Linked DNA regions of Homo sapiens: all the other regions are reported to be linked to region 2. Evidence: microRNA targets listed by miRTarBase, many of them from high-throughput screens and not tested one by one. Region 2 holds a microRNA gene; each other region holds the end of a gene's coding sequence.

Region 1 (7,194 bases), not on the chromosome of region 2:
TAATTTTTATTTTTAACAAAGGCTAGATGTAGAGATATTTATTCGTGCATCAAGAGACTTCTGTCAATTAAATAACAACCAGAATTTAACAGCAAAAATTAGCACTTTTTTTTGTAACTTTGAAGGGGACCTGTCAATCAGCTAAAGAAAAAAACACGCGGGGCACGGTGGCTCACGCCTGTAATCCCAGCACTTTGGGAGGCCGAGGCGGGTGGATCACGAGGTCAGGAGATCGAGGCCATCCTGGCTAACACTGTGAAACTCCATCTCTACTAAAAATACAAAAAAATTAGCCGGGCGTGGTGGCAGGCGCCTGTAGTCCCAGCTACTCGGGAGGCTGAGACAGGAGAATGGCGTGAACCTGGGAGGCGGAGCTTGCAGTGAGAGGAGATCGTGCCATTGCACTCCAGCCTGGGTGACAGAGCCAGACTCCGTCTCAAAAAAAAAAAAAAGAAAAAAAGAAAAAAAACGCATCTTTCACACAGCTCTCCACAAAATAAGGGACATGCATGTTGTAACTAAGATAGAGTCCACAATTTTTTGCACAAGGGCCAGGAAAATTAAATAGAAAAGGAAATTAGTGTCCTTTTTTCTGGATTGAAGGGAAATTCTGCCTGTAGTCTGTGATCTAAGAAAAACTGGTGCTGTCCAACCTGCTGAAAAATATTTTAGTATCAACTATTACAATATATTATTAGTCTTACAGGCTAAGTGTTAATCTGTGTTAAAATTCTGAAAATACAATAGTTATTCCTTTGCTATAAGGAAAGTTATCAAGCTGCAATGGAATAAAATAAAATGCCATCATTAAAATTATAATTTTTTGGGGTTACATTGCTTCAGACTTAAAAAAAAAATCTTAACCTAGTCTTTGAAAGATTACTTTGCATACAGCTGAGAAAACTAGATCAGTCACAAATGAATTTTCCAAGAATCTATGACCTCAGTCCCTGATGAAAATTCATTAACATGAAACAGAAAGACTCTATTATCTCATTTCACTTTACGAATAAATACAACCTAAAAAATATGCCCCTATAAAAGAAGATTTTATGGATGCCACATATATTTTCTGGTAGCCTTCCCCTTATGAATATAATCATAATTCCCTAAAATCATAATGCATTGATTTAATTTACAAAAAATCCAAGTACAGCAACACTAATAGGTAGGATGGAAAGTAGGAAAGAAAATAAGAAGAGGAGGAAGGAAGAGGAAGAAAGGAAGGGAGGAAGAAAGCAAGAGAGGAAGAATCCTTACCAAGTCATAGTAGCTTCAGTCAGGTAACTTTTTAAGGTTTGAAATAAGGCTATGCTAACCAAACAACAGCCTCATGAGAAAAGTTTCATTCTAGTTATCTGTCAAGTGAATAACTTGGCCTGAAATATTCATGGTTGCACCATATTAATGCCTCACTGAGAACAAGTTTTGAACTTGTCTGGACCACTATTAAGCAAATACAATGAAGACAATTAAAAAATATGCTGAATGGTGGTAAAGAATCAAGTTGAAGTCTCTGTCCTCATTATCTGACTAAAACTACTGTAAAATCAAATAAAAAACACTAACATCCATTATATCACCTTCTGGCATAAAAATGTTTTACTCATTTAAAGACCTATGAGATACTTCCAAGACAAGGAAAAAATAAATACTACTAGAATATATTAAGATGAAAAGTTGACTTCTCTCTCTTTCTTTTCTTTCTTTCTTTTTTTTTTTTTTTTACTTTTTTACTTTTTGGTGAGTATATTTTTGAGATTTGGTGGTTATCATTTACATCATTGACTCTTCAGTGGAATATTCATAGTAGTGTAAATAGATTCTTTGAAAATAAGGCACAAGTATATGTTGTTCTCTGATTGTCTCCCACGAGAGTGCACCAAACGAGCGATCCCAAGAAATGGACTTGAGGCACATTTTGCAGAGGTGTCTTTTTCAGTTTGCTGGTTTCCCACAGATGGCTAAAGCAGGGGTATGGAACATGCTGTCATATTTCATTCATAACACACATGTACTATAGCTCTAGGCAACAGATGGACAATCGCTTGTTTGAACTACAAATGTGAAATACTAAGGTAGAATAGCAATATTTCTAGAAATGTATATGAAAAAATAAAGCCTTTCCAAGCCAAGAGGAATGGTGAGAGGCTTTGAGGTTACATCAGTGTTTCCCTGATCTCCCTAGCAGCTGCCATAATTTCCCCAACACCCTTCAAAACTTGATAATGGAAGGATCAGGGGGCAGCCGACACAGATTTGACAAGAGAAGCCCAAACCATATCCAATAGAAATAACACTGTTATTCCTGGCTGGTTCACATTAATAGGATTTTTACTAACTAAAAAAATGGCTGGAAGTTGTGTTTTCAGAGTCCTGTCTATATTCCACTAACTCTCTACTATAGCCCCATGGAAAAAGCCCTCTCTTTCTTCCTCTGTACCCAAATATAAAATACTTGTTTAAATGTAGAGTTTCATATCCTTTAAACCTCACCATAAACATCTCTGTGGAATCTTTCATAGGGAACAATTATAGTGTTGATAAGTCCACCCCCTTAATCAGCACATACCCAGAAAAGTAATTTTGATCAGAGAAGTTGCTCCTACAGAAATAACAATGTGTTAATGACAAGAAAAAGAACCCACATCTTTGAGCTGCAGAGATGCCAGCATCTAACAACCTGATGCCTTATGCTGGGACACATGACTTATTTTTGAGTCGATTATTTATTTATTTGTTTTTTTAAACAAGCGCATGCCACCATGTCTGGCTAATTTGGTTTTTATTTTATTTTATTTTTTGTAGAGACAAGGTCTCACTATGTTGCCCAGGCTGGTGTCAAACTCCTGGCCTCAGGCAATCCTCCTGTCTCAGCCTCCCAAATTGCTGGGATTACAAGTGTGAGTCACCACACCTGGCCTTATTTTCGAGTTTTAAAGGCAATTTTCTTGGCCAGTGAGACTCCATGTTGAGTCAGTATGGTCTGGGGGTTGAAAAATTTAAGAAATCCTATTTTGATATGTTCTGCAGAGCCCATGATATAGTGGATTTTTTTCCTTTTCCATGTCTCTCTTGTTACACAGAATTACCAAATATTTATATTCCTGATACTTTTCAAAATCAGTATATTTTTACAAACTTTCTGTTATAGACTCTGATTTTTCTACTATTTATGTATTTAAACCACAACAATTATGATATTATATCAGCAGACAGTATGATTATAATCATTAAAGTAATACAATCTTTTTCTCTCTGTTGCAGGCAAAATTTCATGCAACTAAAAAAGAGTGACTTGGCATTGTTTAAATCAAATGATTAATAGAAAAGACAGTAATATAAATCATATATTTAAGAAACCCTAGAATAAAATATTGTAGGATCCTTTCCTTATTATACCTTGTGAAAGAAAAAAAAAACTCTAAATCTAAATGTTTCTACATATGTATGAGTGCACATTCATTATTATAAAAGAATAAGTCTATCTTAAAAAGAGATTTACTTTAAAAACCTTTGGTAAAGATACTCTGAGGTTATGTTATAAGAATGCATAATAAAGATTGTAAGCAAGCAGTATTCTGCTGACGATGCCACAGGGATGGGTCTGTGACAGCATTTTCTTACAGCTTTTCCTCTTGACATGTAAACATTCAGTTACACAAGGATTTAAATGTAATAAGCAAGTAGAATGTTACTGCATTTTATAGTATAAATATTCAATAAATTCTTCTTCTTTTGGCAAAATTAATAATAATATGACCACTTTAAGAGATACAATCTATCCCTCAATAAATTGGACTCTCTGCTTTGTCCTAAAGAGAATTTCTCCGAAAGTATTACATAAAAAGTTACTAAGTCAAAATTCAAGCCGATTACATTATCAGCCCTATTGTCAAATAGTCAGTGCTACTTGAGGTCATCAGCATGGTCTGGCTTCAATTTGGAAGACAGGAATTCAGAGACACAGTTGACATTGCCTCCCAAAACTAACATGCTGCCCCTAAGTGAATCTCATCATATTTCACATTATGAGAAATATACGATCAAAGATAAGAGAACTAGGGTAAGAAAAAGACAGTGGTCAAAGGAAGCTCTTAAAAGCTATAATTTTGGTGGTTCTAACACAAAACCGTTTAGTGACAAAAGCAAATGAGCCATACATTAAGGATGAGCTATAGTGACCATCGGCTTAAGAATTTCTAGTCACAAAAAAAGAATCACTTTTATGATCATTCCTATTCAAGTAAAATAAATTTAATTGGAATTCCTGAGGAATAGTTTGCAATTCAAAACACGTATCCATAATTTTTTATTTCAGTTCTGATGTTAAAATTAAAAACTAGAAAAAAAACTAGAAATCTGAACATCACTTCACAATAATGAAAAAGATATCTGTGGAATAAGGAAACGGTACATTGGAGGATGTAATTATACTTGTTATATTTGGTGTCTTAAACTGGGTATTAGGTATATAGGAATTCATTATATTATTATTTATACCTTTTTGTAGACTTAAAATACTCCATAATTTAAAAGTATATACTTGTGGGAGATTTGAAGAAAGATTTAAGAAATCTCAGTCCAAAATCCTTAGTTTACAAAATGGCAACTTGCCATGACTAAGCTAGGTGTCTCTCCTTAAGTGAAACATGTTCGAACTTAATAAGTATGGCTTGGCAGTTGGCAAGCAAGTGTTTCACTGGCTAATAAAAGTTTGAATAAAGATTCTAGGCAGAGATTCTGCATATTTTTAGCTCATAAAGACAATTTTTGTTTCAGTGATTGTCTTTGAAAGTGTGGTGTAAATGTCACATTGATGATATGAAAATGTCTCCTGCAATATGTAATTTCAGTTGCAGAAGGATTATGAGAATAATGAAACTGTGGTTTCAGAATCTTTTCAAGCTTTCTACTCTTTTGAAAGTAAACCAAACAAAACTGCACAGTTTTATTTTGTATGCTCTGATTTGCAATTGTCAGGCAAAATGGACCTGGTAATAAAAAAGAAAAAGAAGAGAATTTGAACGGTTTTTTCACAGCCTTCATCCTCTAGAGAAAAAGGCAATTTTGATAGTTGTGTTGGATATTAGAATAAACATGACAATATTTTTAAGATGAGAAGTGGGACAGTATTGAAAATGTTATCTTCTAGAAGAAATCAAGTTTGTCTGTATTACAATGTTCAGGTAGTGCGGAAAAGAAAAATCTTAAGGTAATATTGTGGGACAATAATGTTTTTTTAAACATAACCCCAAAATGCCTTTTCTAGCATATCCCACCTGTAATTTCTTTAGAAAAATATTGAAGCTTGGTTGTCTGTCACTACTTATTAGCTATGGGCCGATAACTCTTTTCCAATTAGCCTTGATCACTGGTCACTATAGATTCTGAATTCTGATGGTTGCAAATTAAATTTGGGCTTGTTCTAACTTATGTAATTTACAGCTTAAATTCTTTACAGCCTAACAAAAAAAAATTGTGCATTTCCCTCCCCAAGGACGTGAGTAGTATAAAGCAAGAGAAGAATATCCTCTTCAATACATGGGAAAAGAATGGCTACTCTTTACAGTCACAGGCAAAACGGAAATGATAGGATGGAGATTTCAAGCCTAAAAGCACCTGTGAGTTGGCAGACTCACCCAGGAAAAACTATGTGACAGCAAATACCACACTAAGAAAAGCCATTCAACCAGATGAAAAGTGAGACAAACATAGGGATTAAAAGTTACAGGAATGCAGAAGTGAATGGGATGGAGCATAATCTGTGCAAAAATGTGGAAGTCCTTGGGAACAAAGGCCCATCAAGATCCTACATGATTCAATGTGAAATGTGTATTTGGTAACAACTTTTAAAAAAAATCTCATAATTTATGTGTTTCTAAGGCAAGGTTAATAGCAGATGAAGAACAGAGACTATCGCGTAGTTTGATGGCCTTTACTCTAGTATTTCTTATCTTTTTCTTGTGTTCGTTCTTCTCAGTGCCGGCTGAACAGGTGACTGAATCTAAAGGTCAGTGCTCGCCTTGGCGGTCAACACCCTGATGCGGGCAGAGTTGCAGGTCTTGCAGAGGATGTGCCCATCCAAGGGGTAGCAGCCTTGGTTATCTCCTTCAGACAGGAGACCACCGCAATCCTAGAACAGTAAAGACAGATGGAAACGACATAAGTAAAAACGTTAAGTACACATGTGGAGAACATCATGATTGAGCTTTCTATTCAAGGCCTCCATAATGTGGCCACTTACTATCCTTCCTGCTTTACATTCTGCTAATCCCCTGTATCCTTTCTCCCAATATATAACATAGTATATCTTGAATGTAATTGAATTAGAGATTGGGGACATAAATATAAATGGACATAAATATAATCCTCCTAAGCTCACTTGATATGAAATACAGGTATAAGAAGAGAAGAGGCCACCCATCTTGGCTCCCATGTAGAAGTTTGCTGCCCCCACTCAACAAGAGAAAATAAGAATGTCCCTAACCACCGATGCATTTTTTACCCTTTACCATTAGTTTAAGGATCTCTCAAAATGCATGCACAGGTACAGGAATGGAATGTTTTGGCCATTTCTGGCCTAGAGCAAAGGTAGACTGATGTCTGCCAAGCAGAAGGGCCACCAGTGGGTTCGGTGTATTTACTTCAACTGCAGTAAGAAAATAAAATCCTAAAGTTTGTGGGGAGTAGTGGTTTGCTGTACTTTCTAAAGGAGACAGCATTGTGGAGAGCAAAGATTGCTAGTCCAGGGGACAGGCCTCCTGAGCACCACCCACAGTTTTGCTACAGTCTGCCTCAATGCACACAGGCCGACTGCCACTCTGAAAATAACTTCTGCCTTTTCTACCTTACCAAGCTGTTAAGAGGATCAAAGAAGATAATGGATCAAAAAAAAAAATGCAAAGAACTGCATAACTGTAAAGGAATATACTACCGCTGACAGCTCCTCTTAGGGTCCATTTTGAAAAGTGTTATATAACAGTTAAATGCTGGCCTTTGTCTTTGGAGAAAATAGAAGTTTCTTTGGAAAATAAATACATAGTACTTCATCAAGAGGTGTGTGTTTGCTAACTTTAGTATAAACTCTCAAAGGCCACAACAGCTATGAACCTCGCCTCTGCTATCTACCATGGTGGCAAGGAGGTCAATGGAGTTCATGTCTTCATTTGACATAGAATGAAATTTAAGTTA
Region 2 (7,172 bases):
CCAGAGAGAATGAGCTGGAAACTGTCCCCAAAGTCCCCAGTGCCAGATGGGTGACAACTTTGGCTGCCATGGAACACTGTGCCCTTTCCTTCCCAAACCCTCACCCCTGGGCCTGACCCTGGAGTCAAGAACTGCACTTGGCAGAGTTCAGAGAGAAGTCGCCTGCTCTCAAGCCTGGGTCGGCCTGGAGAAGGGGAGAAGCCCCATGTTGCATAGAGATTAAGCTTGAATTCGTTCCCAGGATGGGACCTAAGCCTGGGAGGATCCCCACCTTCAGGAGGTGATGGTGCCATTCACTGGGATAGGGAAACTGGCAGGAGGAGCCGGTTGTTGAGGGTTGGGGGTGCAGACAGTCTGTTGGTCCCATTGGTCTTGAGGTGTGTGGGGGACAACTAGAGAGAACTATTGTCCCCTGCTTCCACGAGGTGACATCTCCCTCCTGCCTTCAGCTCTATTTTAGGGATCAAGGAGTCCTTGGAGCTGCTCCTAGGCATTCTCATAAGGGCCAGAAGAGCTCTGCATGTCTGTCCAGCGGCTCTGCAGAGTTAAGGCTGTGGGTCATACCAGCCACACCCTCAGCGTGGTCCATGTCACAGAAACATGTGGAAACCAGGTGATTTCCCAGCCTCCTGGTCAGGAGGTGGGGTTTTCCATCCCCAGGGAGTCACTTCCCAGTTTCTCACTCAGCACTCAGCACCTAGAAGCACCATCCTTGCAGGCTCCACTGTGGGGCTGGTGGCCGGGAGCAAGGGTCTCTGTACCTCTTCAGGCAGCCTGCAGTGAGGAAACAGGGAACAGAATAGCCTCCTGCCACCCAGCCCACCCCAACCCTTAGAAATGCCCTATGTGCTGGGGGCTAGGACCCCCGTAATCCAGGGCTGGAGGAATGTGCTCTGGCCCCGCAGGGCTGGCCCTGTATTAGGGCTGGCACTCAAAGTGGGGATGGGGGGACAGATTGCAGCTGGAATGGGTGCTCGGTCATGATGTAAATCCTGGGGAAGCCAGCTCTCCTGGGCCTGGTCTCAGCAGCCCCTCAGGGCCCTGCAGCTTCCCTGGTGACATTCTCTCCCAGCCTCTGTTCATCTGCCCCCTGCCTGGGCAGGAGACTTGAGCAGGGAAGTGCAGAGTCTTCTCCCTGTGAGAAGGCTGGATGCGTGTTTAAGGATAAATGAACACGCGAAGAGTAGTAACAACAGCCAAGATTTATAAATGCCTATTGTTATATATGTAGATACTTACTTAAGTATATATAAAGTACAGACTGCATTATGTATATTACATATCTTTAAATTTTTAGAATAGTCCTATGAGGTCAGTTCAGAGATCCAGACCCAGGTGGTCTGGCTCTAGAGTCTAAACAGGCCGAGTGCAGTGGCTCACACCTATAATCCCAGCACCTTGGGAGGCCAGAGGCGGGAAGATCACTTGAGGGTGGGAAGAACACGTGAGCTCAGGAGTTCGAGACCAGCCTGGACAACATGGCGAAACCCCATCTCTATAAAGAAATCAGCCTAGCATGGTGGCCCGAGCCTGTAGTCCCAGCTACTCGGGAGGCTGAGGTGGGAGGATCGCTTGAGCGCAGGAGTTGGAGGCTGCAGTGAGCTATGGGTGAAAGAGTGAGACCTTGTCTCAAAAAAAATTAAAAAATAAGAATTAAATATATTTAAAATAGAGTCTAAATAAGTGAATGATCTAGAATTCTCTTGGTTCCCCTAAAGCAGCTGTCAGCTTTGGGGGATGTTTTTCCAAATTAGTGCCTCACCCTCACGGGACAGGGAAGCCTGTGGGAGCTGGGAGGGCAGGTGGAGGCCGGGCAGGTGGAGGCCGGGCAGGTGGAGATGGTGATTCGAAGAGGAGGGGACGATAGGAGGAGGTTGAGGGGTCACCCGAGTGCTGGGAGTGACGCTGGAGGTATCGGCCCAGCGATGCTGGAGTGGTCGGGTCGGAGGCCCAGCAGCGTCTGGGGAGGGGCGTGGGGGAGGCGTGTCCAAGGCCGGCTGGCCCCGCCCCGCCCCGCCGCCTGGCCTCTGGCCCGCTGGGGCGCGGGCTTTCGCTTTCAGTCGAGGGCTAGCGAGCGCAGCGGAGCCTGGAGAGAAGGCGCTGGGCTGCGAGGGCGCGAGGGCGCGAGGGCAGGGGGCAACCGGACCCCGCCCGCACCCATGGCGCCCGTCGCCGTCTGGGCCGCGCTGGCCGTCGGACTGGAGCTCTGGGCTGCGGCGCACGCCTTGCCCGCCCAGGTGGGTGACTCGCGCGGCCCACGGGGGACAGCCGCCCCGCATGTCCACCCGGCTGGTGCGCAGCCTTCGGGTGCCCGGGCCGCGCTCTCCCGGGGCGCTGTCACGGGCTGGGAGGCTGGGAGTCCCAGTCGCCGCCCCCCATCCGCATCAGACACGCGCGCCTCTGGGGACCCGCTGGGGACTCCGGGCCCGGCACACGTGCGCTCGGGGCACAACTCTGGCCCCCGAAGCCCCTCTTACCCGCGTCGTGACAGGGGCGCACCCTGGTTCCTCCGCGAGCGCAGGCCGGGGCATTTGGGGCTGAGCAGCGGGTCCTGGGCAGACCCCCGCTAGACCCGGGACCCCTCTTCCCTCACCCCGGCGACTGCCGCGACAGCCCTTCCCTCCCACGCGGTGGAGAAGGGGCTGTGCCGGGGCGCTGCCCCACTGCCCACGCCGGGCACCCTCTTCAAAAGACTTCCTTTTCCTCTGGGCGACGGTTTTCCGATTTCTTAGAAATACCAGGGTCCTGTGTCTGAAGAGCAGGACCAGGTGTGTGTCAGGTCCACTGAGGGCACAGCTGGAGGGCGAGCTGCCTGTCTGCTTCCTCCGATGCGTCCGGGGGCTACTGCAGAGTCTGTTTTCTGCGGCCTCTGGGGACAGGGCAAGCGAGGGAGGTCTGGGCTGGTAATCGAGCAAGGCAAATGAAGTCTCCGGGGGCCGCAGGAAAATGGAGACAGCAGAAACCCTAGGGCTCCTATTCAATATGAACGTCACTCCCACAGTAGCAACGGGCGTACAAGGGACTGTGCACCCTTTGCCTGTTTTTGACTGTCTCCTGGTCTGGTAACATAGGATAACCCCATTTTTGTTTTACTGTCTCCATGGTTTGGTAAGATAAGATAAACCATTTTTTAGAGAAGGAAAACTGAGGCTCAGAGAACTTGTATTTCATGGAAGGGTCTGGGGGGAACTCTTCCTCCAAAGGGGGCCTCTCCTGCCTTCGGCCCCTGTGCCCTGAGGCTGCGGGGAAGGTGGGCGTTCATCCTTCCTCAGAGCCGCCCCTGATGGACACATGGCCCATCTGCCCCCATCTGACATCTTGACCGAGGAGGAAGGTGGGAGGTGGCACTGGCTTCTGTGGTGACATAAGGTGACTTGTTGATCTGAGGCCAGAGAGTCCAGTTCTTGTGGGTGGAAGATGGGGGCTGTCAGACTAGAATTGACTCACCGACAGTGGGTGTCAGGAGTGGGTCCTGGAGAACTGCCCCAGAGTAAGTCCTGGGTGGCCTTTGGGTCAGGAGAGTCCCCACTCTAGGGCCGAGTGTGAATGGGGACGACCGTGGTCCCCAGCTTGACTTTGGGGTCATGCCATATACTCTGGCCTCAGAGGGGGTCTTCCTGCCGCTGAGCTTGGGCCTGCCTGGGTGAACTCTGGGGTCATGTGAGCCCCTGGATGGGAGAGGGGTGTCAGGCACAGGGCTCAGCAGGACACCAGGCTGCAGTCCTGGAGTAGCTGGAGGAGGTTCCCTCCCACTTCCTTCCCTTCCTGACCAGCTCCTGCGGCAGCTCATATTCCCTCCTCCCTCATCCCTGCTCCCCACGACCCCACCCGGACTATTGCCGCAGCCTTGTAGCTGGTCTCCCGGCCCTGCCCCCTCTCCCGCTGATCCTTGGCAGAGAGACCCTTCTCAAGCATGAGGCACCTCTCTGTTTGCCTGGGGAGCCTCCTGTGGCTCCCAATGGTTGAGGCAGAAACTCCCCTGGAGATCCCAGGCCAGAGTAAGGTACCTGAACTCTTCCTCGCGCCTCCCTGCACATGTGCTCCCCCGCCTCTGTAGAACTGATGATGGTCATCGTGTGTGTCATTGTGCAAAAAGCATTGTCCGTGCCATCCCCTCTCCAAGGGACACTTCTTACCCCTATCCTTCAAGGCCTTCTGCAAATGCCATTCTCTCCAGGAAAGCCTTTCCGCATTCTCAGTTGGATTTGATCTTCTCTTCGAACTCCCAGGCCCTTTTGTTCCCTTTGAGGACAGATTGCATTCTGCTTTTTAATCTAGCTGTGTTTTATCCCCCTCAGTGGATGGAAGGTGTCTTCAGGGCCAGAACTGTGGGTTCCTCTTCCTTCTCATCAGTAGCATCGCCATAGCTCCTGATTTCTGAACACCCACTAAACACCAGGCACTGGGCTAGGTACTTTGTCACAAAATTTCACTGAAACCTCCCTTACAGCAACTCCCAAGAGGTGGGTGGTGCCGTTTGTCTTTAGAGATGTGGAAACTGAGGCGTTTCCCAGGATCACAGAGCTGGGGGCCGGGGAGCTGGGGGTGGGATTTGAATGCAGGTCTGCCTGATTCCCAAGCTCCTTTCACTGCACCCTCCCCGTGCCCGTATCTGCACTCATGCTCCCAGCCAGGCCCTCACACACAGTGGGTTCTCAGGATGGAAGTCAACTGAGCTGCAGAAGAAGCCCCCAGGAGACCTGAGCTAGCCATGGACGCAGCCGACTCACTGCCAGCAGGGCTTTTGCCCCGTTTAAAAGTCTTATTTGCCAGCTGGTATGGAAAACATCATTCATTCATTTAGCCATTTATTCATTTGACAAAGAAATGCCAGTAAACCTGGCAGTAGGTGAGTGCTTGGTGCCCTCTGATGGGGATGAGCAGGGTCTGGGCTGTCTGGGGAGGAGGATGAGGGGTCTCTGCCTGATGGGCCTGGCCCACCTACCCCTGGAAGTCTTGGTGCTGAGGTGCCACTATTTGCCTCCTCATCACCCAGGGCCTGGGGCCAGTTTGGGTTAGGGGAGAGGTTGGGGGCTCCCAGGCTGGATGTCAAAGAGGAGTTGGGTGATCTGGGGTACCTGCTGGCCCTGGGGGCTCTTCCCTCCTTCCACCACGTCTCTGTCTCTTTGCCCTCTGTCTGAAATCCCAGTGGGGACCCTGTGTGTTGACTGAGGGTGTGGTCTGTTGGTCAGGCACGTCTTCAGAGGGCAATGGGTAGGTGGCCAGGCACCCTGAGGCAGGGCCATTCATTCATTCATTCATTCCCCAAAGTTCATGGACACACCTAGTCCAAGCCCAGCCCAGTGCCTGGCTCTGGGGACCTCAAGATGACTCCAGCTCCAATCCTCTAGGAGCTACACTACCAATAGGTCACAGACCTCACAGACCTGGGCTCTGTCCCAACTGCCCTTATGAGCTTAGCTGAGCTAGTAAGCCTATGTTCTCATCTGTGGTTGTGGAAAGTATTCCCTGCCTGGCCTTTGTCACAGAGCCATGGGTGTGAAAGGCTGAGAACCTGCCGGGCATTCTTACGTCAGAGGTGACCCTGCCATCCTGGCACCTGGCACAGTGGCTCCCCGTAGCACTGTCCCTCCCCACGGCTGGGTGACGCTTTATGGTCCTTACTATGCAATGTTTTCTGGAGGAGTAGCAGGGACGGTTGTGCGTGGGAAGGGGAAGAGTTTTGCCGGAGCCATGGCATGTATGTTACACCCGACTCTACACCAACTCACTTCTTACTTTTTTTCTGAGATGGAGTCTTGCTCTGTTGCTCAGGCTGGAGTGCAGTGGCGACATCTCTGCTCACTGCAGTCTCCATCTGCCTCTTGGGTTCAAACGATTCTCCTGCCTCAGCCTCCAGAGTAGCTGGGACTACAGGCATGCACCACCATGCCCAACTAATTTTTTTTTTTTTTGTATTTTTAGTAGAGTCGGGGTTTCACCATATTGCCCAGGATGGTCTTGGACCCCTGACCTCAAGTGATCCTCCCGCCTCAGCCTCCCAAAGTGCTGGGATTACAAGCATGTGCCACTGTGCCTGGCCCGTTCTCACTTCTTCTTCTTTTTTTCTATTTAATTTTTTTTTATTGAGATAGAGTCTTACTCTGTCACCCAGGCTGGAGTGCAGTGGCCCAATCTCTGCTCACTGCAACCTCCACCTCCTGGGTTCAAGCAATTTTCCCACCTCAGCCTCCCAAGTAGCTGGGATTACAGGTGTGTGCCACCATGCCCGGCTAATTTTTCCTTTTTTTTTTTTTTTTTAGTAGAGACCGGGTTTTGCCATGTTGGCCAGGCTGGTCTCGAACTCCTGAACTCAAGTGATCCACCTGCCTCGGCCTCCCGAAGTGCTGGGATTATAGGCGTGAGCCACCCCACCCAGCCCCATTCTCACTTTTAAGCCATGCTTTTCTGTCCTCAGATGTGCTGCACACACACCTGCTCCAGGGCCTTTGCACTTGCTTTCCCCATCACCTCCAATACTCCTCCTGCTGACGTCTCTTGGTCTCCTTCCCTCGCTTCCTTCTGCTGAAGTAGACAATCCTGCCTGTAGGTGCTCCCTGCCAGGCACTCTCACTCCCTGACCTGCTTTGTATTCCTGTATAATGCTCTTGACCTATTCTATTTATTTCACTTTTATTATGTCTTCCCACAAGATTGTAAGTACCGTGAGGACAGGGACTCATTCACCACTGTAGACTCTAGCCTAGAAGAGGGTTTTTCAGTCAGTGCCTCTGACTTTAATTCTTTGTTGTGGGGCTGTCCCGTGAGCTGTAGGATGTTTAGCGACATCCCTGGCCTCTACTTATTGGATGGCAGTAGCGCCACCCTCCCTCGTGACAAAAATATCTCCAGATATTGCTAAGTGTCCTTTGGGGTTGGGGGATTGCCCCTGATTGAGAACCACTGGCCTAGGACAGTGCCTGGCACATAGTAAGTGTTCAAAAAATATTCATCTGACCTTGACCTTGATAATGGCCCTGTTTTACAGATGAGACGGGGGTTTGAAAAGTCAGTGGTGGCAGGGTGGGGTTCTGTTTGCCTCCATCTCTTGGGGTATTTTTCTGGGCTCCTCTTCCCATTGAGTGGTGTCTGCTGAGGTTAGGGGTCCTCTCCCCAAATTGCTCACCCCCTCGACATCCCTCGTGTAGTGAGGGATGGGGCCACTCACTGAC
Region 3 (7,192 bases), not on the chromosome of region 2:
CCGCCATTCCACACCACAAAAGCCTCTCCTCACCTTTTTCCTTGGAGCCAGTGTCCACGAAGAAGAGTTTTTCATTTGGGGCCTCTGACAACAAGCCACTGGGGGACAGAAATGCAGAACATCAGCCAGAGATGTTGGAGAGGAAAGAGATTTAACCTGGCAGGTCCAGCCTTCATCTTCCGCTTAGTCAAGTCCCGCCACCGGACTCTTCCAGGCTAAGGCTTCGCCCAGCAGTTTACAGAACTTAGTATTTAGGAAGGACTGCCAGGCGCAGTGGCTCACGCCTGTAATCCCAGCACTTTGGGAGGCCCAGGCGGGTGGCTCACCTGAGGTCAGGAGTTCAAGAGCAGCCTGGCCAACATGGTGAAACCCTGCCTTTACTAAAAATACAAAAATTAGGCTGGGTGTGGTGGCTCACACCTGTAATCTTAGCACCTTAGGGGGCCGGGGCGGGTGGATCACCTAAGGTCAGGAGTTCAAGACCAGCCTGGCCTGTAACATGGCAAAACCCTGTCTCTACTAAAAATACAAAAATTAGCCGGACGTGGTGGTGCATGCCTGTAATCCCAGCTACTTGGGAGGCTGAAGCAGGAGAATCACTTGAACCCAGGAGGCAGAGGTTGCAGTGAGCCGAGATCGTGCCATTGCACTCCAGCCTGGACTACAGAGAAAGACTCCGTCTCAAAAAAAAAAGAAAAAAGAAAAGAAAAGAAAAATAGCCGAGCGTGGTGGCGCCCGCCTGTAATCCCAGCTACTAAGGAGCTGAGGCAGGAGAATCGCTTGAGCCTGGGAGGCGGAGGTTGCGGTGAGCTGAGATCGCGCCTACTCCAGCCTGGGCGATAGAGCGAGACTCCGTCTGAAAAACATATATATATACATATATATACACACACACATATACACATATATATATACACACATATACACATATATATACACACACATATATACATACACACACACACATATTTAGAAAACAGCAAGCTAAGGTGGATGCATGGAACGTATTTATGCTAAAAATTATTCATTGTTTACCTAAAATCCAAATTTAATTGAGCGTCCTGTATATTTATCTGCTAAATCTGGTAACTCTATCAAGCTCTCCAGCTTCCCATGCTGAGTCCCCTGCCCATGCTCTCCATTTCCTCGGCGGTCCCCGGGACAGGAGCCCCCAACCCCCGACCCCCGACCCCCGACCCCCGACGAGTCCACGCAAGCACGCCTGGCCTTGCACCTGGGCGCAGGAACCGTCCCACCTCCCGGAAGTCCCGCCCAACGTACCCGCTCGTGCGCTCCTGTAGCCGCACGTCTTCCAGGAACTGGTCAACCTCCAGCCCCAGCGGCTCCTGAGCAAGCCGCCGCCAGCCCCGCTTCTTATTTCTTGGGCCTCGCCGCCGCCGCCTCAGCGCTGGGTCCACCGAAGTGGGCCGCAGCCCCAGGAAACCAGAATCGGCATCGCTTTTCGAGCTGCGCTTCCCACCAACGCCACTGCCTCCTGCCGCCATCTTGTCAAAGGAAGAACTCAGCCACTGGCGTCCCAAAAAGCCCCTTTGCAGCGTGCGCGCGCAGATTTCCCACCCTCTTCCGTGACGTACTTCCTGTGGCAGCCATATTTATAAAGTGACTGGAGTTGCCAGGAGGCTGCCATCTTGGTAAAGGATAAATGGCTCCTCCTTCCTCCATTCTTTACAGCGGGATCTGAAGATTCCTAACGGCGGCGGGTGGTAGGAAAGAGACGGGAAGGTTGCAGGTTCTTAGCTTTCGCCCTTAAGCGAACACCTTTCCCGGCCGCCTGGGGTCTTTGCTCAAACTGATTTTTTTCTTTAATAGATAAGGTCTCACTTTGTTGCCCCCAGGCTGGAGTGCAGTGGAAGGGTAATGGCTCACTGCAGCCTCCAACTCCTAAGCTCAGGGATTCTCCTACCTCAGCCTCCCGAGTAGCTGCGACCACAGAAGGGTGCATCCGCACCTGGCTAATTTTTTATTTTTATTTTTTGTAGAAATGGAGCCTCCCCATGTTGCCCAGGCTGGTCTCAAACATCTGGTTTCAAGTGATCCTCCTTCCTAGGCCTCCCAAAGCGCTGGGATTACAGGCTCACACCACCACTCCCGGTCCAAACTGATGTGTGTGTGTTTTTTTTTAAGAGACAAAGGTCTCACTATGTTGTCCAGGCTGGTCTTGAACCCCTGGGCTCAAGTGATTCTCCCTCCTCAGCCTCCGAAAATGCTAGGATTACAGATGTGAGCCACCATGCTCGGCCTGATTATTTTTTAATCTCGTTTTCTTAGAAAGTCAGAACCGTCAGTGGCAGATTCCGCACAACACACATTCCAATCTCAGAAGTTTTGTCCTCTCAAATGTTCCAATCCTAGGATCTTAGAAATCAAGTAACTTTCGGAATATCAAAGTTGGAAGCACAGAACATTAGAGGAATGTTAGAAACATACACTTTTAGGACCCTAGAAGTGCAGACTCAGAATCATTCATCTTGAGCGGGCTACTTCACTGTGCCTCAGTTTCCTCATCTGTAAAATAAAGATGATAACAGTACATCTGCGTCATAAGTCATGCAGAAGATTAAACATATGTAAAGCGCTTAAGGCTGCGTCTGGCATCTGAGTGTTAGCTATTGTTACTGCCTTGCCCTCTGAGGCTTCATCTTAGAATCAACTCATCTTTGTCATTTACAAATAAGGAAGGAAGCTCAGAGGCTCTTGGGCCCTGGCAGCCATTCAAAGGGATCCATGGCAGGGCGTGGTGATTCACGCCTCTAATCCCAGCACTTTGGGAGGCCGATGCAGGAGGATCGCTTGAGCCCAGGAATTCAAGACCAGCCTGGGCAACATAGTGAGATCCTGTGTCTGCCAAAAATTTAAAAATTAGCCAGGCGTGATGGTGTGCGCCTGTAGTCCCAGGTACTCGGGAGGCTGAGGTGGGAGGATCGCTTGAGCCCAGGAGTTGGAGGGTGCAGTGAGCCGTGATTGCACCATTGCACTCCAGCCTGGGTGACAGAGCAAGACCCTGTCTCAAAAACAAAACAATCAAATCAAAGGAATCCAGGCCTCATAAAAGCCACTCTGGACTCATAAAGGAAAAAGGCACAGAGAGGGCAGGCGACACACGCATGGTCACACAGCGAAATTCAACTGGATCCTTGCGCAGAGCGTTGGAAAGGTGACAGGCCCTAAAGGTGACAGGCCCTGGATCGCAGCCCCGAGACCTGAGCGCCGAATCACCTGGGCAGGGATTTTGGCGACCACAGCCTATCTGTTTTCTGAGCGTCCGCCAGGGGGCGCCGCGAGCCGCGAAACTGGGCCCGCGTGGGCGGGATGAGTGCGCGGCCAGCGTGTCCCGGGACGCCGTGGGTGTGGCCTGGATGTGAGTGCGCGGGACTCGGCGCGCACGGTGCGCTGCCCAGCTCTGGCCAAGAGTCCCCGGTGCGTGAGCGCGCGCACACTCCTGGCAGCCCGTGTGGGCAAGGTCACCACTTCCCCAACCAGAAACCAGCGTGTTCCTGGTGTTACGCGTCGGGAGTTATGTACCCAGGTTGTGCAAGGGCACGTTGCCGGGCAGGGCGGGAGCTGGGAGAGCACTTCGTGCCCGAATACACACACACACACACACACACACACACACACACACACACCCCGCGCGCGCCCCAGGGCTTGGTTCCCAGGCCCCCGCCGCGGGAGGTGGGAGGAAGGGATGTCCCGGGGGGAGGGCCCCAGAGTCACTTTTCCTCGGAAAATATGCCGTTCTGGCCCCCAGCCCAGGCCTGAGTCACCAGGCCTCGCTGCATTGAGTCACGGACTCCACCCCGCCCCTGAGAGCACGGAAGGGGGCCTCCCCCCACCCCAAATCCTGCCCAGGTCTCTCTTTCCCTGGGGGAGGGCGGGCGATCCCTGTCCCAAGCCAGCCTCACTGCCACATGGGAAGAAGCCTTGGCTTTATTCGCTCTGTGGGGACACTGTTCCGTTCAGAGGCCCCTCCCAGCCATGGGGTGGGGGACAGTGGTGGGCGTGGGAATCCCAGCGAGCATCCTGGAGGGTGCGTCGTCTCCATGTATTTTGCTCTTCCCCATCTTTTCCATGGGGTCCCCTGCCAGGGTCAAGCACTAATATGTGGTGAAGGCAGCAAACAGCGTCGGCGTCCCTTTAGGGGTGGGGAGAGGGCTGTAGCACCAAGAACCCCCTCCCCCGCCCACGACATCCCTGAAAAGGAGACTAAAATAAAGCCCCGGGGCCTTTCTACGTAGGGGCTCCACTTAAATATGGAATGGTGGTAGGCAGAGAGGCGGTGGCCCAGCAATCCTTAAGTCCAGATTACCAGCTGTGGGGAGGCTTCCAGGGGGCCAGGAGCAGGCTGGGCAGTTCCAGCCACAGACACGTGGGTGGAGGACGGAAATATCTCCAAGGGGGCACAGTATCAGAGGAGCAGGATGGAAGGGGCTTTTCTGCCTGCTACGGGATCCTTTTTAAAGAAATGGGTGTGAAGCCGGGCACGGTGGCTCATGCCTGTAATCCCATCACTTTGGGAGGCCAAGGCGAGCAGATCACCTGAGATGCGGAGTTCGAGACCAGCCTGGCCAACATGGTGAAACCCCGTCTCTACTCAAATACAAAAATTAGCTGGGCGTGGTGGCGCGTGCCTGCAGTCCCAGCTACTCAGGAGGCTGAGGCACGAGAATCACTTCAACCCAGGAGGTGGAGGTTGCAGTGAGCTGAGATCTCACCACTGCACTCCAGCCTGGGCGACAGAGCAAGATTCTATCAAAAAAGAAAGAAAGGACAGGACAGGAAAGGGAAGGGGTGTGGACAGAACTGGGGGCAAAAACAAAAAAGAAGGAAGGAAGGAAAGAAAGAAATGGGTATGGGCAGAATTGGGGGCAAAAACAAAAAAGAAGGAAGGAAGGAAAGAAAAGAAGGAAGGAAGGAAGGAAATAAATGGGTGTGGGCAGAATTGGGGGCTTTCCCCGAGCAAGGGAAGGGGCTGCGGAGGGGCCCATCTGAGGAAGCAGTAGGTGTGTCTCCCCTCTGAGCCCCCCATGGTCCCGAGACCTGAGGATGTGATGGAGCCGGTTGAGGGTGTTGCCTGGCTGGGCAGGAGGAAGCGGAGCAGAAGGGGGTCTGTTTATCTGCTAGTCATTTCAGCCACAGGGCTGCTCAGCCAGGGGAGGGGCTGGGGGCCCTGCCAGGAATTAGTGTGTGTTTGCGTGACTGTGTAGGTGCCCTCTCCTGGGAACGTCACCTTCCATGAGGGCAGATGTATTTGTCTATTTTGTTCTCTATGGTAATGCCCAGTGCCTAGAACAGGGCTGGGCACATAGTAGGTGCTCAATAAATATTTGAATGAATGACGGATGGATGGATGCCTGCGTGTGCCAGTGTGTGTGTGATGTGCCTAAGTGAACGTGAGGCTGGAGGTGTGAAGGGCGGACAGAGAAGCCTTGTCCCTCCCGTGGTCCCCTCTAAATGCTTCCACCGGGGTGTCTGGCGGTAGTGAGGAGGGAGACCCCCGGTCCTTACAGCTGGGCAGGGAGGGCAGGCAGGGCGTGTGTGAGCCGGAGCAGGGGTGTGCGTGCAGCCGACTGGAGCTGGGGAGCCACAGCAGGGCCATGGGAGGGGGGCCGGCTCACTCGGCGGAGCCCTTGTGGCGTCGCTTGGAGGGTGGCACCAGGCGACGGGGCAGGTTGGCGGGCAGCCCGTGGCCTTCCAGCTTGGCCTCGATGAGGTGGCTGGCCAGCGCGAACTCCTCATCATCCAGCATGCCGTCGCGGTCCACATCGCTGAGCTTCCAGATGCGCCCCAGCACTGAGTTGGGGAGCTTGGTCCCCACCATCCAGGTCTTGGCCTTGGAGCCGCTCAGCTTGCCGTCGGCAGGCGCCAGGTTGTAGAAGATCTCGTCGTATTTGGACTTGTCCTTGGTCACCACCCACTCGGCCTCGTCGTCCGAGCCCTCCTCGCCGTCCTCCATGGCCTCGTCAGGTCCCCGCTCCACAAACGGGCCCATGTGGGTGCCCTCAAAAGCGCCCCCCTGCACGCCCACCTCGGTGCTCTCCAGCTCCTCCTGCCGCAGCAGGGGCATGAGCTTGGCGATGTCGTGCGTCAGCATCTCGTCCAGTGCCTCTAGCAGCTTCGGCTTCAGCGAGTGAAACTTGGTGAAGTCGTGCGCCATCAGCAGCTCCTGTGGTGGGGGACAGGGGCACCCAGAATTCAAGCGGCGCCATCCCTGAGGCCCTCAGGCTGCAAGGTGGTATCAGGACACTGGAGAAGCTCGGGGGTAGCTGTTGTGGGGTTTTTTTACTGTTGTTTGTTTTGAGACAGAGTCTTGCTCTTGTTGCCCAGGCTGGAGTGCAAATGGCACAATCTCGGCTCACTGCAACGTCCGCCTTCCGGTTTCAAGCGATTCTCCTGCCTCAGCCTCCCAAGTAGCTGGGATTACAGGCATGCGCCACCATGCCCAGCTAATTTTTGTAATTTTAATAGAGACAGCGTTTCACCATGTTGGCCAGGCTGGTCTCGAACTCCTGACCTCATGATTCGCCCGCCTCAGCCTCCCAATGCTGGGATTACAGGCATGAGCCACCGCGCCCAGCCATTTTTGTTTTGTTTTGTTTTGTTTTTTTTTGACAGGGTCTCGCTCTGTCACTTAGGCTAGAGTGCAGTGGTGCCAACATAGCTCACTGCAGCTTCCAACTCCCAGCCTCAAACGATCCTCTGGCCTCAGTCTCCCAAGTAGCTGGGACCACAGGCACACACCACCCACCCAGCTAAATTTTTGTGATCCTCCCTCCTCAGCCCCCGCAATTCGCTGGGACTATAGGTGTGCGCCACTACGCCCAACTAGTTTTAAAAATTTTTTGTAGAGACCAAGTCTTGCTATGTTGCCCAGGCTGGTCTCGAACTCCTGAGCTCAAGCCATCCTCCCACCGCAACCTCCTAAAGTGCTGGGATTGCAGGTGTGAGCCACTGTACCCAGCCAGAGTGGCAGCTCTTTACTGACACATGCAGAAGTATTTGAACATCTGAACAACCTGTTCCGCTCGGGCACCCACCAATGAGAAGATACTTGGGCAACAAGGTCCCAGAGGCTTTCTCCTGTGCCCCAGAATTACTGGAGGGTGGGGAGGCTGGGGCCCCTCTGATGAGTGAGAGCAGCGGCCCTTTGCCAGCTAGCAGAGAAGGATTTCAA

Evidence for each region. The annotated mature microRNA hsa-miR-7846-3p reads CAGCGGAGCCUGGAGAGAAGG and lies in region 2 at 2,078-2,098, shown strand. An mRNA with a match to its seed (bases 2 to 7 or 8) in the 3' UTR can be bound and repressed. Matches are read on the target gene's strand: a 7mer-m8 pairs with bases 2 to 8, a 7mer-A1 pairs with bases 2 to 7 and ends in A, and an 8mer does both.
Region 1: the mRNA of LPP is a reported target of hsa-miR-7846-3p. The part of its 3' UTR that is shown has no 7-base or 8-base seed match.
Region 3: the mRNA of EHD2 is a reported target of hsa-miR-7846-3p. Seed matches in the 3' UTR shown: 7mer-m8 at 5,110-5,116.

Annotation. Positions count from the first base shown.
Region 1 is chr3:188,873,293-188,880,486 of GRCh38, reverse strand. It overlaps LPP (LIM domain containing preferred translocation partner in lipoma), which reads right to left. Exons shown (of 12, transcript NM_001375462.1): 12 at 1-6,136. The coding sequence ends at 6,008. Among named protein-coding and RNA genes, the nearest start is that of TPRG1-AS1, 71 kb to the left of the region's middle.
Region 2 is chr1:12,164,933-12,172,104 of GRCh38, forward strand. It overlaps MIR7846 (microRNA 7846), which reads left to right and starts at 2,011; the gene lies at 2,011-2,106. It overlaps TNFRSF1B (TNF receptor superfamily member 1B), which reads left to right and starts at 2,059. Exons shown (of 10, transcript NM_001066.3): 1 at 2,059-2,237. The coding sequence starts at 2,160. RefSeq lists silencers at 1,895-2,204, 2,215-2,444 and an enhancer at 2,485-3,126.
Region 3 is chr19:47,739,873-47,747,064 of GRCh38, reverse strand. EHD2 (EH domain containing 2) reads right to left here. Exons shown (of 6, transcript NM_014601.4): 6 at 3,931-6,184. The coding sequence ends at 5,633. It overlaps NOP53 (NOP53 ribosome biogenesis factor), which reads right to left and starts at 1,519. Exons shown (of 13, transcript NM_015710.5): 1 at 1,282-1,519; 2 at 34-98. The coding sequence starts at 1,505. RefSeq lists enhancers at 326-826, 1,247-1,636 and a silencer at 3,201-3,310.